Linked DNA regions of Homo sapiens. The protein of the gene in region 2 interacts with the protein of the main gene of each other region in a pairwise test. Each region holds a gene or a part of one and is shown on either strand. Other genes may lie near its edges.

Region 1 (8,900 bases), on a different chromosome or scaffold from region 2:
CATTTTAGTCAGGCAATGTAAGACCTTACAGAAACTGGAAGAGAAGTCCCCTTCTCTTGGTAATTCTTTTTTTTTCTTTTTAAAGCTGGGATATCTTACAGAGGAAGGAAAAATTAACCTTTTTTACTTTCTTTCTCACTTTTTAAATCAGCCAAAGTCAAGCCCGTTTGCCAACCTGCATGTCCATGCCTGTAAGCCCTTCTCTTGGCCAAGGAAGAAAGGAAGAAAGAAAAAAGAAACCCAGGGGCCTGTATCCCCTGATTAAACACAGCACAGCACTCCAGGCAGACATGCCCGGTGGCGGCTCCTTTGCACCATTGACCTCAGGCCAGACACCTCAGCGCCAACAATGGGACCTCGGCCTTCCGGCTAGGTTTGCCCCAGGCTGGGCAGGAAACCAGCTCGGCCGAAGACAGGGGCCATTTCGAGCAGTGGGACCCCAAGACAGCAAACCCAGCCCAGTCAGGACTTGACACTTAGGACAATATCTATCTCTATAGAATTTTAGCATGATATGGCTTTTTCCCCCAGAAAACAACAAATAAACCAGCACCAAGCAAACACAAAGAAACAAAAAGTCAGAACAAACCAGCCCTGCACAGATGTAACGGCCCAGGAGATGGCGAGTGTGGGAGGGAGGAACAGGGCTCCAGCACAGGTGCGAGTTCCTGGGCAGAGCCTGAAGACAGAGGGAGGGGACCAGCGCTCGGGAAGTGAAAAAACCGCGTCGCCTGGAGATTCATCAGGAAAAATTAAAGTTGGCTGTGAGCTCCCGGATCCGGTTTTCTCGATTCATTTTCTTCAGTTTCATCCTGCGGTTCTGAAACCAGATTTTCACTTGTCTGTCCGTGAGGTGGACGCTGCGGCTAATCTCTAGGCGCCGCTCTCGAGTAAGGTACATATTGAACAGAAACTCCTTCTCCAGCTCCAGTGTCTGGTGCTTCGTGTAGGGGCAGCGCTTCTTCCGACCACTCTTTGCCGTGAGCCAGTTGGCTGCGTTTTCACCTTTGGAATTGCCTGGCATGTAAGAGAATAAAGAGGGGATGATTAAGTCGAGGCCACACGGGCTGCCCGCGGGGGTGAATTGCCTCCGTTTCTCCCATAAGAGAGATGTCCCAAGTCACAGAGAAGAGAGTCGTGCCCCCGTTTTTGGCTTGCTGAGAGCAAGCAGTTCCTCCAAAAGTCATGACAAAAATTGAGTGGGCCTTCAATCTACATGACCCTTCCAATTTACATTTCCCCCACTTTTCCAAACACCTGTTTTAGCGCTAAGCCGTAGATGCTTGCAGAAGGAAAGGCCTGGGAGGGCAGGCTGTACATCTTGAACTTAACGCTTTTCTTTGCCTCTTGCCATATGGCAGACAAGCATTTCCTGTAGCCCCCAGGCTAGGAGCGCGGGGTGCTTACTTGGAAGATGGGCCAGGCAGCTTGGCTGTCTCACCCCAGGGCCCTGATTGCCCAAGACTCGATAAGGGGAGAAAGAAGGGCATCATTGGTCCAATGGGGAAGGCAGGAAAAACCGATTCGGGGGTCAAGGGCCCTCCCTCAAGTTTCTCCAGGAGCCAGGGATAGATAGCTGGGCGATTCCGAGGTCCAGGGGAAGGGAAATGGCCCTTCTCTGGCTCTCAGCTCAGGGCCCCCCGCTTCCAGGCCGGATTTGCCTTTTCTTCTTCCCGCAACGAAGATTCCCGCCCCTCAGCAACTTTGAAAAAAGCATGGGGGATCGTAAACTCGAACTTCGCCGGTTAATGGGCTTATTTATTGGCGCTGGCGGCTGCTTATTTTGGATGCCTTACAAACATCCGCGCTATCTGCGGGCGAGCTACTTTCCCTCCCTCCCCCTCCCCCCGCGTGGGCCGCGCCGCGCAGGCTGGGCAGGGACCAGGGCTCTGGGTCCTCCCGGCCACAGGAAAGAGCGCACAGGAGGGGGCCTGCTCGCTGGTGTCCTCGTCCCTAGTCAGGGGGAGCTGAGGCCAGCGCCGAGGACGTCTTGCTGTGGGGCGCTAAGCCGGACATGAATTTTACTGCGTCCCCACGCCCAAATATTAAAAAGCAAGTTCACAAGGTCAGCCTGCCTGCAGCTTGGGCCAAGGCCGGCCGGCTGCTGCGCGGGCTCCTAGTTTTCTGATCCTTCTCCTCCTTGTGTCTGCCTGTCTGCCCGCCTGACTGCAGCCCTCTGCAGCCCTGCTTACCCAGGGAATCCTTCTCCGGCGAGGCTTTGCTGCTCTCGGAAGGGGCCGGGGAGAGCTCCTCCGCGGCCGAGGACGACGCGTGCGCCTCCTCGTCGCCCTGCGAGCCCCCGCCGCTGCCGCAAGCCAGCGTGGGGGGCGGCGGCGAATCGAGGGCTCGCTCCTTCCGGGCCGCATCGGCCGAGCCGGAGGCTAGCGCGGGCGGGAGATCGAAACCGCGCCCCGGGGGCTGCGCGGGGAACGGGCCAGCCCCGAGTTGCTGCGCGCCGCCGCCGCCGCTGCCATAGCCCTTGGCGGTGCCGTAGGCCTGAGAAAGGCGGAAGTAGCCAGGCACTGGCACCCCGCTGGAGGTGCCCAGGGCGCAGCCGTCGGGCGGCGGGCCCCGCGGGAAGGGAGCCAGTTCGGCGGCGGTGGCCGAGACTTTGGGGCATTTGTCCGCCGAGTCGTAGAGGCAGTAGGAGCTCTCTTCTTTGATGTTCTGCGCGAAAGAGCACGAGGTGGCCTGCGGCGCTGGCTGGGGTGGTTGCGGCGGGGGCGGCGGCTGCTGCTGGGGCGGCGGCGGCGGCCCGTCAGGCGGCTCCATCCGGCAAGACCGGGGCGCGTCTAGCCACAGGTCTATGGGCGAGGGCCCGTAGCCGTGCGCCCCGGGACCTAGACCCCCGCCACCGCCACCGCTGCCCGGCGACGCTGCCTCATTGCGCTTGCCGCCCAGCGTGGGGAAGAGCCCGCAGCTCTGCAGCCCGTAGGGCAGGTCGGCGGCGGGCGGCAGGTAGACCCCGCCGTGGGCGTAGTAACCGCCACCGCCGCCGCCCCCCGCGCCACCACCACCGCCGCCTGCCTCGCCTCTGCCCGAGCTGATGAGCGAGTCGACCAAAAAAGAGTTCGCGGCGGGGCTCTCCGAGCATGACATTGTTGTGGGATAATTTGGCGAAGGGAGCAGATAGCCCTTTCTGGCTGACATTTCTTGTGCAAAACATGCTGAATACGATTAGCAATCCCCCCGCACCGCGGCGGGCGCCCGCAGCCAATCCCGAGCCAGAGTTTCCGCGCGACCACTCCCAGTTTGGTTTCGTAGGCGCGGGGCCGCTCTCCGAGGGCGCCCTCAGAGCCCGCGATTGATATAAATATGTAATCTGTATTGATGGGCCAGGAGACGCACCCCGACACCTTGGCCCGAAGGCCGGGAGCTGTGGGGGCTGCCCCAACGTGGCTGGTGGGGGGCCTGGCCATTGGGCTCGCCCCGCCCCTACCCGGACGTGAGCCCCATACCGGGGTCCCTTAGAAGGGCCCTTGGGCCCCGCGCAGTTAACAAGTGGGGTGTTTATGGTGCGCGCCCAGTCTGCCTTGGGTGCTCACCATCCCTGTCGCAGAAGCTGCCACTAGTCCCCGGTGTACTCTAACCACTGAAGCGGCCGTGTCGGGGACTCACGCGCTTCCCATTCAGCTCTGGATCTGGAACTGGCCCCTTGTCTGAATTCTGCCTCCTCAAAAGTGGCGAACCTGGCCCTATGGCCGTCAGGATCCTCAGAGTGTCAGGAGCCCAGAGTGAACTAGAAGCTGACTTGCCTCTACTTCCAGTATCCACAGATTTTTCCCCAAAATGCAGTGGTTGTTCCCTAGCCCCTAACCCCCAACACTTTTCTCCCCTAGTCCGTTGATCCAGTTAGGATCTTCTCCTCTGGTGTTGTGCTCACCCGGCTTGCCTTCTCTACAACTCCTGTCAGTGGACTTTGGTGGGCTGGCGGGACTGGGGGTGGGAAGCGGCTGCCAGCCTTGATGGAAAGACGGCCCCACTCCCACTCCCAAGGCCAGAGCCAGATCCAAGCATCCCCTCATCACCTAGGGAAGACTCTAAGCCCACAGTCATTTCGGGGAAGTAAAATGCTGGCCTTGGGGTCCTTGGCTGGCCCAAAGTGAGAGACTTGGAGGGGTGTGCCCGGTGTACACCTCCGCTGCTTTATGTTCCTGCTCTCCTGTTAGCTTTGGCACTCATATGCTCCTGGAGGCTACAACAAGAACCAGTGTCACTACACTCCTACCTCTCTGTCCCCTCCCCTCTTCCCCTCCCTCCCATACCCTCAGCTAGGGCAGTCCTTGCTCCTGCAGTGTGTGCATTTTAACGAGGCCTCGGTGAGGAAATCCTTTCCCTGCAAGGCCGGGCTGGGCTCATGGTCCTGTTATAAGAGCATGTGGAGGTCAGGCCCTTTGCTCAGCAGGCTCAGGGGCTCTGTTTTAGCCAACTGGAAATGGCCGGCCTGGGGTGCTAGCCCCCAAGTGTGAGCCTCATGCTAGTCTCAGGAAATGCAACCTTTTCCGGCCAGATCCAGTGGAGCCCGGGAGGTCGCTGCCTTGCCCCTGGCCCGTGGGCTACAGGTCTCCAGGATACTCTAGGCCTGCCCGCCCCTCCGGCCCCAGTCGGAGCTGGCATTACTGAACGCCGGCATCCCAGGAAATAGACCGCTCAGGCCGCTGCCTTCAGCTGGGAAAGACTCTTGCATCCGGGTCATACGCGGCACTTTGCCTCCTTCCTCCCAGTGTGAATCCAGCCCAAGGTGGAAGAGGAGCCTGAGAGGACCCTGAAAGCGCAGAGAGAGCTGGCTAGGTAGAGCTCCAGCTCTGGCTTCTGAGATTCAAGCAGCTGCGGTCGCTGCGGGCAGTGGCTGCTCCGAGCTCCGGGCCCAGAAGGCCGCTCCACCGCTAGCGCGGCGCTCCAGCCACTTCAACCTCGGCGCCCCACGGTGACCCGGCCGTAAGGACTGAGCATCAGGGTGCGGAGGAGGAGGATGGAGAGAAAAAGAGAGAGATAGAAGGAGAGACGGACAGAGGGAGAGAAAAGAGAGAGAAACAGGAGGGGAGAGAGAATAAGAAAGCCAGTTCTCTCCAGCCTGACAGGGTCTTGAAGCTGCAGCAGCGGCTTTAGAGGGATCAAGACAGGGTCTGTGCCAAGAGATCATTAACTCTCCTTCGCTCTTCGCATGCTCCTGCGCCCAAGGCCAAGGCAAATTCTCTACCCTCTAGGCCCATGAGACGGACGAACCTGAGTGCAGAAAAGCTTCAGAGCACCGCAGCCAGTGGCCCTATCTTTAGCTTCCCGGATCTGCCTGGTCCTTACCCTGCTCACCAGAAGGGTGGAACTGGCTGGGACTGTTGCCCTTAGCAATGCCACCTGGAAATGCCACAGAGCTGGGGGCTGCCTAGGAAGGAAGCTTTGCTCTTCAGCACTGCCCATGCCTCTCAGAAAAGCTGTGTCATTTGGCAAGTGGGTCCCAAGACCTTCGAGGTTTCCTCAAGGATAATGAGCCGTGGCAGGTCAGTGGGCCAGGACCTGGGCCTAGAGTCATGCCTCTCCAGGCTAAATGCAGAAAGCAACTTCCCAGGCCGACATCTGGGAAGGTCCAGTATATATTTGAGATAGTGGAGGCTATACAAATAAAGTAAAAGACAATGATCTTAACCTATCTTTCCTAACCTTTTAGGGAGTCAGGACCCTTCTGGAAAATCCAAGTAAGTTTTGACTCATTCTGTGAAAAATGCATATCTGTATATTCCCACAATTTGATCCATCATTTCGAAGGAGTTCACACACCCCTCAGTCTTTTCCTTGGGTCTTCCAGAGTCCCCCAGTGTCCTGGGACTTGGGGGCCCTGCCAATTTGGCTGGCAAGACAAGCTGGGTGCCCTGCAGCAGACAGCTCAGGTCAGGGCCCCGTAGGGCAGCCAAATGGGCTTCTAGGCTGGATAGAATCCAGGGACCTGCACGTGCCAACCAAGGTTACAAAAGTCAGTTTGTATCGCATCTGCTACAAAAGGCTGCCCCAGCCGAAGAGTAGAGGAGCTGGGAGGCCTGCTATGGGCCTCGCAAGCCGTGGCGTTGGCACTTGGGTCTTCAGTGACCTTTCTGTGGTGAGCCAGATGTGTTTCTTTAGTATGACTTTTTCCCCCTTGTAATAAACCAAACGGGATGTTGGGCTTGAGCTCCTTCTGGCTTTTAAAAAGAGTGTGTAAGCTCATGTATGGCAGCCCCTCTCTGGCCCAGGACTGCCTTCCAACTCCCACCAGGGCTTGCTGAGTGGGAAACGCAGCGAGACACTGCCGGTGAGCTGGCCGGCTGCAGGCGGGCCGGCTGCTGCTGGTTCAAATGAGAGGATACTAACGCAGCAGAAGCTCAAGTTAAACGCCTCCTTGGCCCTCTCAGTTGGTCTCCTAGCCCCCAGCATCCCTGACCGACCCCCAAGGCTCCCATGCTCTCTAGACTTTAACACTGGAGTGTTAGGTTTCTCAATAAAATATTCCATTTATTGAGCGCCTCGGCTTTCCTGAGATTCCCCACCCCAAGAGATGAAGAAAGCGATTCAGTTGTAGTGTGGGTCGGCTTCCAAGCACTTTTCCTCCCTCGTGCTCATTTGCCTTCTTTCTTTTTTGCCATTCTTCCCAGCTACTAAATTTCTCCCTCTCCCTCAGGGTAACTTTGACCTAAATCTTCAGTGCCTGCTTGCCTCAACCAGGCCTTATGCAGCGGTTACACAGTCACCTCCAGAGCCCATGTTTTATTTAGGAGGAAATATTGCCCATTTCTACCCGGGTAATAACCTGCCAGCCCTATGGGGCCAAAGTAAACACCAGGCCCATGGATTAAGGCCTTCGGCAAGGATTAGGCTGCAGTTCACTAGGTACTCCTTCTGAGTAGGCCCTTGTAAGCAGTGAGAAATAAACTATTATGAAAAACAAGTTCCTAATGAAAAGATACCAGGTCCTGAGATCGAAACTGCTAGTAAACAATTTATATCTGGAGGGCACTCTCAATGCTTTCAAGACTCTGAATTATCCAGCGGTGGAGTTGGGCTGCAGTCCCACAGAGGAAAAATAAAGGCTGCTTTTACATATCTGGCTTTAGCAAAAAAAGAAAAAAAAATCAGAGCTTCTCATATCCATGCATTTATGCATAGTTAGAAAATTTTTCCACAAGCAATGATGTTCTTTTCCCATTCATCTTTAAGAATGTCAACATTTTCAGGGATATTTGATGTGTCTGTTTTGAATCTATCAGGTGCAATCTATTACTAAACAACATACTTTTAAAGTTTTCTAAATCCAACCATTAAGATGGCCCTTCCCCTGTTAGGGAAGTGTTGGGGCCTTTTCACACACCCTTTGAATTGCAATATTCTTAGATTTGTTCATAATAAACAGCCTCTGGCCTTAGAACTGGAGGCGGCTCTGGCATTGTAGGGAGGGCTCCCGCTGCAGAGAGCAGCTCACTGGGTGGGCGCTCATTTCTTGCCTTGTTGCTTTGCTCCGTCATAGTTTGGGAGCCAGCCTTCAACAAAGACTAGTAACTATGATAGGCAAAATTTACGCAACAAACAGGCAGTGCCTACTTTCTCTGGGATTCACCCCACTCACCACGCACTGTATATTTGGGAAAAGAAAAAGATGTGGGAAACTAATGGAAAAATAGTAGAAAAAATTAAATATAGGAGAAAGAGGGAATTTGAATCGATCCTTCAAAATGTAATGGAATTTTTTCATTTAAAATGTGTTTGATGACAACCCCAATGGAGTGATTGCTCCGTCAAAATTTATCCTCGGTTCCAGCTTTTTAAAAAAGTATTAGTATTTACCAATACATTTTTGCATATTTGCAAAATATCTTCTACAAAAGATCTAATTTTCATATGTAAGAAATTGCTGCGAAATTGCAGCTGGGTTTATAACAGCGTACTCCAAGTATGCAACACAGAGACTTGTCTGGCACTCTCAAAAATCACATGCGACTTCTCCGAATTGGCCTTTTTCGGAACAAAGGTTTTCTCCAAGCTGCCGGGCAGACATAGAGATGCACCTAGTAGGAAACCAGTGACCTCCAGGACTTCTGCCCCTGGGAATAAGCTCGCCTTAGCGGCCGCAGACTTCTACCACCCCATTGTTTAGAATGGAAACTTTGTTTTCCTCAACCCGCGATCACCTTTTTTTTTTTTTTTGCCCTCCCACAACCCCCTATCGCAGCACAGCTGGAACACTTTCGCCTAGATGCCTCTCATCCCTAGCCCATTCTATTCTGTGTATTTCTACAAAATCGAAAGATTCGCCTTGAGTGAAATGCTGGCGCAAGGAGCTAAAATCCTCAACTTTTCTACTTAGGCCTCCCCCTGCTTTCCAACCTTAGGGAGCAATGGGGTGGGGGCTCCCTACCGCGTCACCCCACAAACCCAGCCACGTTCCCGAGAGCCCTGCTTAGACATCGGCCACCTCCCCACTCCCGCCCCACCAGACTGAAATTGCTAAACTTGTGGCCTCTTACCTTGACACATTTCCGAAATCACTGCCAAGGGACAGCTGGCTTCTCCGCGCGGCGACGCTCGCGAGGCCTAGCGAATGCGCGTTGCTTTAAATTACCATACCAATCACTTCTTGAGGGTGAGTCCCCTTTTTCTGTTATGAAGGGGAGCGGGACAAGTGAAATAATGTACCGTGCTGCTCTTAGTATCAGAAGCGAACAAAGGCCAAGAATCATGCTGGGGTTCCCGGCTCCCCGGCGGCTTTGACATTGATCGGAAGTGCGCCATCTCGTGGCGGCTGCGCGCCTAGGTTGGGCCGGAGTTCCAGCCCCGAGCCGAGAGACGGAAACCAGCTCCGGGCAGAGAGAGAAGGAGAGAGGAGAGGATGTGCCCAGCCCGCTGCTATTGAGATCTCATTTTTACATCTAAGAAAT
Region 2 (9,009 bases):
AGGCAGGAGAATTGCTTGAACCCAGGAGGCAGAAGTTGCGGTGGGCTCATATTGCGCCACTGCACTCCAGCCTGGGCAACAAGAGCAAGACTCCGTCTCAAAAAAAAAAAAATTTATTTATTTATTTATTTTTATTTTTATTTTTTGAGACGCAGTTTCGCTCTTGTTGCTCAGGCTGGAGTGCAATGGTACGATCTCGGCTCACCGCAACCTCCACCTCCCGGGTTCAAGCGATTCTCCTGCCTCAGCCTCCCTAGTAGCTGGGATTACAGGCATGCGCCACCACGCCCAGCTAATTTTGTATTTTTAGTAGAGACGGGGTTTCTCCATGTTGGTCAGGCTGGTCTCGAACTCCCAACCTCAGGTGATCCGCCCGCCTCGGACTCCCAAAGTGCTGGAATTCCAGGCATGAGCCACCATGCCCAGCCAATGTTTTAAATTTAATTAATTAATTAATTTTTTTGAGATGGAGTCTCACTCTGTTGCCCAGGCTGGAGTGCAGTGGCACGATCTCAGCTCACCGCAACCTCCGCCTCCCAGGTTCAAGCGATTCTTCTGCCTCAGCCTCCTGAGTAGCTGGGATTACAAGCATGCGCCACCGCGCCCAGCTAATTTTGTATTCTTAGTAGAGATGGGGTTTCTCCATGTTGGTCAGGCTGGTCTCAAACTCCCAACCTCAAGTGATCAGTCCGCCTCAGCCTCACAAAATGCTGGGATTACAGGCGTGAGCCACCGTGCCTGGCCAAATAAAATTAATTTTAAAAGTAAGCCAAATATGTATGACAAATCAGTGCTATAGAGAAAAACAAGTGAAAGGAGATAGGGAGTATGATGGTCAAGGAACTCCTCAGTGATAAGGAGACATTTGAACAGGGATGGAAGGAAATGAGAGAACAAGTTAGGGGGATAACTATGTGAAAGGAGTTCCAAGGAGTTAAGTGCAAAGACTCTGAGGCAGAAGGGCTATTTTGTTTCGAAACTGTCTATACTATAAACACTTTAATAACATTTACAAATTTTACATTGAGTCAGTGATTATTTCACTTTGTGAAGAGATTCATTCAAATGTCAATGATCTTATTCTTTGGTTCTAAATGAACCAAAACACAGCTTCACTGGAATGAGAGACATCATAGAATAATTCGTTCTTCTATCTTCTCCAAAGCAAGAGCCTTTCAGAAATGTTACTTCCTCATTCTTAACAATATTCAAGACTTGTCTGAGATCTGTCTCCCAAATCAATGTTCTGCCACAAGAAAGTCAAAGCAAAAAATATTTAAATGGAAGAAGGGAGAGGGAGAAGTAGTGTATTAAAATGGAATGAAAGTAAATATACTAATAGAAAATTTACCTTAGGAAGAATATTTAAAAATCTAGGTGTTATAATTGAAAGAAATGTATGAAATGTAAATAGTTAAGGATTACAAAAATAAAGGCCATGTAACAAATTTTCTTTGACAGATTAGCGGTGTTCACTGTTTGACAGTATTCCAAAACAGTAGTTTAATGGTTAAGTAAAAAAGGCATTGAATACTATTTTGATCATTTGTTTATCTTCCAAAAACTAGCTTGTGAAATACCCCAGGTTTCTACTACAAGATGTTAGTGCATATACTAGACATGTAATGTCTATTTGAGGAATAAATGAATTTCAGATTTTCAGGAAGTATTATTTCCCCCATTTTTGTAGAAGCAAACCAACTCTTCAAGTACTCACTTTTAAAATTAATAATTACATGCAAGTATAATTAGTCAAAATAATACGCGATTAGAGCAAAGTCATGGTAGAAATGACCATGACTAAACTTTTAGCTTTTCTAGGCTTGTAACTGCATTACTATTTAATAAGCAAAATAATTTTCAACTTAACCCATGTCTATCACTAAGCAAATCAAAACAAAAAGTGATCCATTGCTCCTTCCATAGTTTGGTAATGGTTCAAAATGGTAATACGGTTCAACTCACTATTTTATATCCAAAAAAATCTAAGCTCCTCCCAAGGTGACTCTGAGTCTAAAAATTTGAACATGTAATCATCACTTTGTGTGGTATAATAATGATCTCATTTACATATAAAATAGATTTAACATTCTGAAATAATTTTACATTTAATTTGTGTAAACTCTGTAGGTAGTCTTCTTGAACTGTAAGTTCCGTGAGGGCAGGGATCTCTAGTGCAGCCCTTTACACTGAAAGTCCAGTTAGTAATATTTCTGCTGTTTCTGGTAAGTCAATATAAACAATGTTTTTAAATTATTTACTTACCAGCTAAAAGACGCATAAAATAGTTGAATTTCTATTTTAAAGTGTGATTTCTTTTTCAGTTAAAAAATGTACACTAAAGTTCAGTAAAGCTGGCAGATTCAGCAGCATGCTGAAGGACAGTTACTAACTGGCAGAAAAGTTACAGCAGCCCTTTTAAGAAGGATTTAAAATACTGATCATTAATACGTAAAAATGCAAAAGTTTAGAAACAAAGAATGACACTGGAGATAGTACAATAAATATTCATGCAATTAAGCTGTTTTCCAAGGAGCGGTCCCCACAAAATATGGGGGAAAAAAAAAACCTTCAGAGAATGCAATATCTGAACTGATAAGGAGCTCAGCATGTTCCAAGGCACTCAGACTTAACATTATCTCACCTGTCTGTCACAGCAACTCTGTGGCGTAATTTTATGAATGGGAAAAACTCAGGATCAAGAGGTTAAGCGACTGGCCCAAGGTCACTCAAGGAATCAATGGTGCAGCTATACCTAGAAGGGTGCACTTCACCTGATCCTTCCCACTACATAAGCCAGCTCCCCGACTGAAGCATTAGGACAGCGGAAAAGCAGGGATCAGACTCTGTGAGTGTCCCGCACTACTCCTATCCTGCCAAGGAGGCGCGGGCTTGCCTTTGAAAGCCTTCCCTAGCAACTCAGCCAGAGAGGAGGAAGTTGTGCCCGAGGCAGGCCACTGATCAGCCCAGCAAAGTGACAAGGATGACAGGCGCAGCCCCCAAAGGACCAGCCGGCATTCCCAGGAGCCCTTCCAAACCCTGCGACGGCGAGACTGGTCTCAGAAACATCTGAAAAACCTCCCAGTAAGTTTCGCCCCCTCCTGGACGTGAGGAACCAGCTGGGAATGAGCCAGAGGTCGGCCAGCCACCCGAGCCAGCCATGTGTCCAACCCGTCACGCCCGCCCCGCCTCAGCCGGCTCCTCATGCCTAGACCGCAGCCAGAGGCCCAGCTCAGGATCCGAAGCAAAGGCAGCCTTGGCTGCAGCCACCACCACCACACCACACCGAGGCGCCCCGGCGTGGAAGTCGCCGTCAGATGTCCGCCCCACCCTCCTGCTGGGACCCTCAACGACGTCGTCCGCGCCTCCGGCCAGGCCCCGGGGGCTCGGCCTGCCACTTCTGCCCACCCGCCTGCCCGCCGCCACCGCTAGCCGGGCGTCCTTACTTCATTGAGCTGGCGCTCCGCGGCCTCACGCAGGGCTGGGTCCATAGTGCCCCGCAGGGCCTCGATAATGGTGTTGGGGTCCATCGCAGCGCGGACTCGGTCAAACCCGGGGCTCGGGTGCTACTGGGCCAGGAATAGCGCCACTCACTGCGCACATGGACCCGCCGCGCTCCGCAGCGGCAACCGGCGCGAAAGGAAAGAGAAGCGCCAAGGCCCCGGATAGAACCTCTTCGCCTCGGCGTGGAGGCGGGAGATGCTCCGGCGACTTCCTGTGGGCGCGCCTGCGGAGCACTTTGGGAGATGTAGTCCACAAACACAGTCCGCAGCCCACGTGGCTGCCTGAGCTGTCGTTCCTACAGACAAGTCTTTCTGTTCAAAAACGAAAAATGTTCAAGTTCCACAAAAAGAAAAGCAAAACAATCAGTTACAAAAGGTTTCACATACTATATCCACAATGTTCATAAAGGGAGTCAGATACAGTGTGTGGTGCAATCGATTGCTAATGGCTGCGTGATTGAAGGAAACTTTCTGAAAAGCAATTTGAGATGTGTTTCTGATAGCCACTAAAATATTTAAACTGCCGGGCGCGGTGGTTCACGCCTGTAATCCCAGCACTTTGGGAGGCCAAGGCGGGCGGATCACGAGATCAGGAGATCGAGAGCATCCTGGCTAACACGGCGAAACCCCGTTTCTACTAAAAATACAAAAAATTAGCCGGGCGTGGTGGCACGCGCCTGTAGTCTCAGCTACTAGGGAGGCTGAGGCAGGAGAATCGCTTGAACCCGGGAAGCGGAGGTTGCAGTGAGCCGAGATCGTGCCATTGCACTCCAGCTTGGGCAACAAGAGCGAAACTCCGTCTCAAAAAAACAAAACGAAACGAAATGTTTAAACTCTGACCCAGTAATTCCACTTATGAGACTTTATCCTAAGGCAATAACACGGAAGATTAAATGAACTTTATGTGTGAAAGGTTTTTATCACATTACGTATTAGTAATTACCAAATACTGAAATCATGGCTTTTTATTGAGTATCCAAATTTTAGTTGGGACTTCATATAAATCACCTCTTAATGCAGAGTAAAAGCATAATCCCTATTAAAATACACCTTCCTGCCAGGCGCGGTGGCTCACACCTGTAATCCCAGCACTTTGGGAGGCCAAGGTGGGCGGATCACAAGGTCAGGAGATTGAGACCATCCTAGCTAACACGGTGAAGCCCCGTCTCTACTAAAAATACAAAAAATTAGCCGGGTGTGGTGGTGGGCGCCTGTAGTCCCAGCTACACTGAGGCAGGAGAATGGCGTGAATCCAGGAGGTGGAGCTTGCAGTGAGCCGAGATCATGCCACTGCACTCCAGCCTGGGTGACAGAGCGAGACTCTATCTCAAAAATAAATAAATAAATAAATAAAAATAAAAGACACCTTCCTAGCCAGGCGTAATCCTCCTGTTGAGGCAGGAGGATTGCTTGAGACCAGAAGTTCAAGGTGACAGCCTGTTAAGATCGTGCCTATGAGTAGCCACTACGCTACAGCCTGGGCTACATAGCGAGACCCCATCTCTAAAAAAAGAGGGAGGTGGGGGAGAAAGAAAGAAAGAAAAAGTCCTCTTTTATAACAGCCAAGAAAAAGTTTGTTTTAGAAAGGTTAAATAACTTACCCAAGGTCACGTAGTAAGAGGTTCAACTAAGATTTCAAACCTAAGATCTTTGTTTTCAAACTTTCCATTGTTTCCACTAAATCACTCTGCCTCTGAAGAGAAATGTTGAACAATATAGGACTGGTTAAGCAAATAGCAAGAATCCAGTAAATTAAATATTTCACAGCCATTAAAAAATATAACAAAAAAGTATTTATGGAAGGATATAGCTTTGTAACATGGACAAAGACTGAAAAGCAAGGTTAGCAAATGAAAATAATTTATTTTCTATTAACAGGATGGTGAGATTTGGAGTAATTTCCTTTCATATCTGTTATTATTGTAACAAAGTTATATAAACAGATATACTTAAAATTAATTATAAGCCTTCAAATACAATGTGTTAAATGATCACTTATTGTTTTTAATTTACAAAAAAAAGAGAAGGAAAGGCTCACGAAAGCCTTTCCCTGAAGCGGTGGGTTTTGCAATGTTACTACCTTGTATATGCCAGCCACTGTGCCTGGAAGTACTGGAAGTAAGACAGAATTATTCCTAATTTAGGCCGGGCATGGTGGCTCACAACCGTAACCACAGCAATTTGAGAGGCTGAGGTGGGCGGGATCACCTGAGGTCAAGAGTTCGAGACCAGCCTGGCCAACATGGCAAAACCCCATCTCTACTAAAAATACAAAAATTGCCTGGCCCGGTGGCTCACGCCTGTAATCCCAGCACTTTGGGAGGCCAAGGCGGGCGGATTACGAGGTCAGGAGATCGAGATCATCCTGGCTAACACAGTGAAACCCTCTCTCTACTAAAAATACAAAAAAGACCGGGCGCGGTGGCTCACGCCTGTAATCCCAGCACTTTGGGAGGCCGAGGCGGGCGGATCACAAGGTCAGGAGATCGAAACCATCCTGACTAACATGGTGAAACCTTGTCTCTACTGAAAATACAAAAAATTAGCCGAGCGCGGTAGCGGGCGCCTGTAGTCCCAGCTGCTCGGGAGGCTGAGGCAGGAGAATGGCGCGAACCCGAGAGGCGGAGCTTGCAGTGAGCCAAGATCGCGCCACTGCACTCCAGCCTGGCGGACAGAGCCAGACTCCGTCTCAAAAAAAATAAAAAATAAAAAATAAAATAAATAAATAAATAAAAATAAAAATACAAAAAAATTAGCCGGGCGTGGTGGCCGGTGCCTGTAGTCCCAGCTACTCGGGAGGCTGAGGCAGGAGAATGGCGTAACCCGGGGAGTGGAGCTTGCAGTGAGTCGAGATCGGGCCACTGCATTCCAGCCTGGGCGACTGAGCAAGACTCTGTCTCAAAAAAAAAAAAAAAATTAGCCAGGCATGGTGGTGCTCACCTGTAATCCCAGATACTCAGGAGGCTGAGGCAGGAGAATCACCTGGACCAGGGAGGCAGAGGTTGCAGTGAGCTGAGATCGCACCAGTGCACTCCAGCCTGGGCAACAGAGCAAGACTCCGTCTCAAAAAAAAAAAATTTACAAATGAAGAACCCGAGGCTCAGGCTACTTAAATTGTGAGGAGTCAGAAAGTTTTCATAATAATAACCTGTAAAAAGTGTAATAGTGTTACAAATACAATCTGTTTAAGAATTTTCCTCTCCCTGAATTGTTTGAACCCGGAAGGCGGAGGTTGCAGTGAGCTGAGATCGTGCCATTGCACTCCAGCCTGGGCAACAAGAGTGAAACGCCGTCTCAGAAATAAAAAGAATTTTCCTCTCCCTGCTCCACTGCTCAAAGTGAAGGCCTTGAAAACAGGCTTATGTTCTATTGACCTTTGTATCCTCACCTCCTACCACAGAGTTAGAATGTAAAGGAGGAGTTTAAAAAATTCTTTAAGTGAATAAATGAAGAAAGGAATTAATAAACTAGTAATGACTTATAGGTGGCTGAGCCAGAATTGAAGCTTCATTCTTCATGATTCAAAAGCTAGTCCTCTTTCTGATATTATATGCCTATTTTAGATTCCAGAATTGACTTGTTTATCACGGAATTGTGAAGATTTTAGCAGAGCACAATGTATATGAAAGAACCTGGCACATAGAAGGTAGTCCAAAAATGTTAGTTTCCTCTCCCTAAAACTGAAAGGGAAAAGAAGTGGTAGTGAAAAATATGGTTTTAAGCTGTAGTGCTGGGAACAGGGAGCCAACGAGGCTTGCAGATCTACAGCTGGCATGGGGCCTGTGTCTCATCCTTCATAGAGAACAGAGCACACTGGGTACAAGATCCTGTCTGGGGAGCCAGCATTCCTGTATCCAAAAAAGGAGCTTGGCCCCAGGGAGCATTCAGGAGCTAGTTGGTAGAGTGATTAGCACACTCAACCTATTTGTAGATTTTAGTTTTATTTTGTCAAGCTAGTGACACAGAGAATGTGACTTACGTGACTGGAAATTTCAGTGTGAACTCCTCTAGGGCAGAGACCACATCCATCTTTTTTGTGGTAGACACAGAAATGAATGAGTGCTCAATAAATAAGTATGAGAAGACTAATGAAAAAAGTGGTTTGTTAAGCCACTGTAAACACAATTACATAACCTTATGGTGTCCCACAATCCCAATCCCCAGCACAGCAGCCAACACAGGTATCTAAGCCTCCTTAGGCAAGGTGAAGGCTGAGAATTCAGAAAAGCATAAACCATAGTCTCAGAGTTGATTTTGAGGTAGGATGAAATTAGACAAAAATTAAGAAGAGATGCGGCCGGGCACAGTGGCTCCTCATGCCTGTAATCTCAGCACTTTGGGAGGCCGAGGCTGGCAGATCACGAGGTTGGAGAGTTAGAGACCACCCTTGCCAACATGGTGAAACCCCATCTCTACTAAAAATACAAAACTCAGCTAGACATGGTGGCGTGCACCTGTAGTCCCAGCTACTCAAGAGGATGAAGCAGAAGAATTGCTTGAACCCAGGAGGTGGAGGTTGGTTGCAGTGAGCCGAGATCACACCACTGCACTCCATCCTGGCGACAGAGTGAGATCCGTCTCAAAAAAAAAAAAAAAAAAAAAAAAGAAGAAGAAGAAGAAGAAGAGCTGGGCCTGACTCAGTGGCTCACACCTTTAATCCCAGCACTTTGGGAGGCCAAGGCAGGTGGATCACCTGAGGTCAGGAGTTCAAGACCAGCCTGGCCAACATGGTGAAACTCCATTTCTAGTAAAAATAAAAAAATTACCACAGTGTGGTGGTGCGTGCCTGTAATCCCAGCTACTTGGGAGGCTGAGGTGGGAGAATCTTTTGAACCTGGTAGGCGGAGGTTGCAGTGACCTGAGATCGCACCACTGCACGCCAGCCTGGGAGACACATTGAGACTCCATCTCAAAAAAGAAAAAAAAAGATAGTTATACCATAAGGGAATGGAAAGAATTAGTGTTCCCTTTACAGGCCCCCATTGGGGCTTTTGTGGGTAAATGCCAATGACGAGACCCTTGATGATAATTGACACGGAAAAAGTTCCCTCGTCCCCCTCTCAGAGTCTGAGATGGCGGTGTGGCTCCCTTCTTCAGTGCCTCACTGCTCAAACCTCTCAGGGAACATACAGACGGGTAAGGCTGTGGGGCTCTGAACCCACAGCAGTGTCTACTGGTGAATGTTTACAGTTCCTAAAGCCCCAGTGGGTGTGTGTTATAGGATGCTCTTTTAGTTTTGCTGTCTATAGGTGGCTTGTGTTAACCAGCTCAATTAGATCCCCTACCTTGTTGCAAGGACAGAGGACTTTCTGTATCCCCGTGTACCGGAACAATTGGATCACACCTGGGTTTGGAGAATGAGTGCAAGATTTTATTAAGTGGAGGTAGCTCTCAGCAAATGGGGGAAATGAGAAGGGGATGGAGTGGGAAGGTTTTCCCCTGGAGTCAGGCCGTTAGCGGCCTGGGTTTTCCTCCAACTGCCCCAGCCAAACTCCGCCTCCTTCTG

Evidence for each region.
Region 1: the proteins of IPO7 (region 2) and HOXA10 interact in binary tests that used the Homo sapiens proteins (3 or more experiments, as listed by UniProt).

Annotation. Positions count from the first base shown.
Region 1 is NC_000007.14:27,171,157-27,180,056, forward strand, and holds the start of HOXA10 (homeobox protein Hox-A10), read right to left. Parts: upstream 3,165-8,900; 5' UTR 3,151-3,164; coding exon 2,193-3,150; intron 1,018-2,192; coding exon 743-1,017; 3' UTR 1-742. Other genes in the region: HOXA10-HOXA9 readthrough, read right to left, coding at 8,490-8,499. UniProt on the Homo sapiens protein: Sequence-specific transcription factor which is part of a developmental regulatory system that provides cells with specific positional identities on the anterior-posterior axis. Binds to the DNA sequence 5'-AA[AT]TTTTATTAC-3'.
Region 2 is NC_000011.10:9,379,285-9,388,293, reverse strand, and holds the start of IPO7 (importin-7), read right to left. Parts: upstream 3,643-9,009; 5' UTR 3,531-3,642; coding exon 3,447-3,530; intron 1-3,446. UniProt on the Homo sapiens protein: Functions in nuclear protein import, either by acting as autonomous nuclear transport receptor or as an adapter-like protein in association with the importin-beta subunit KPNB1.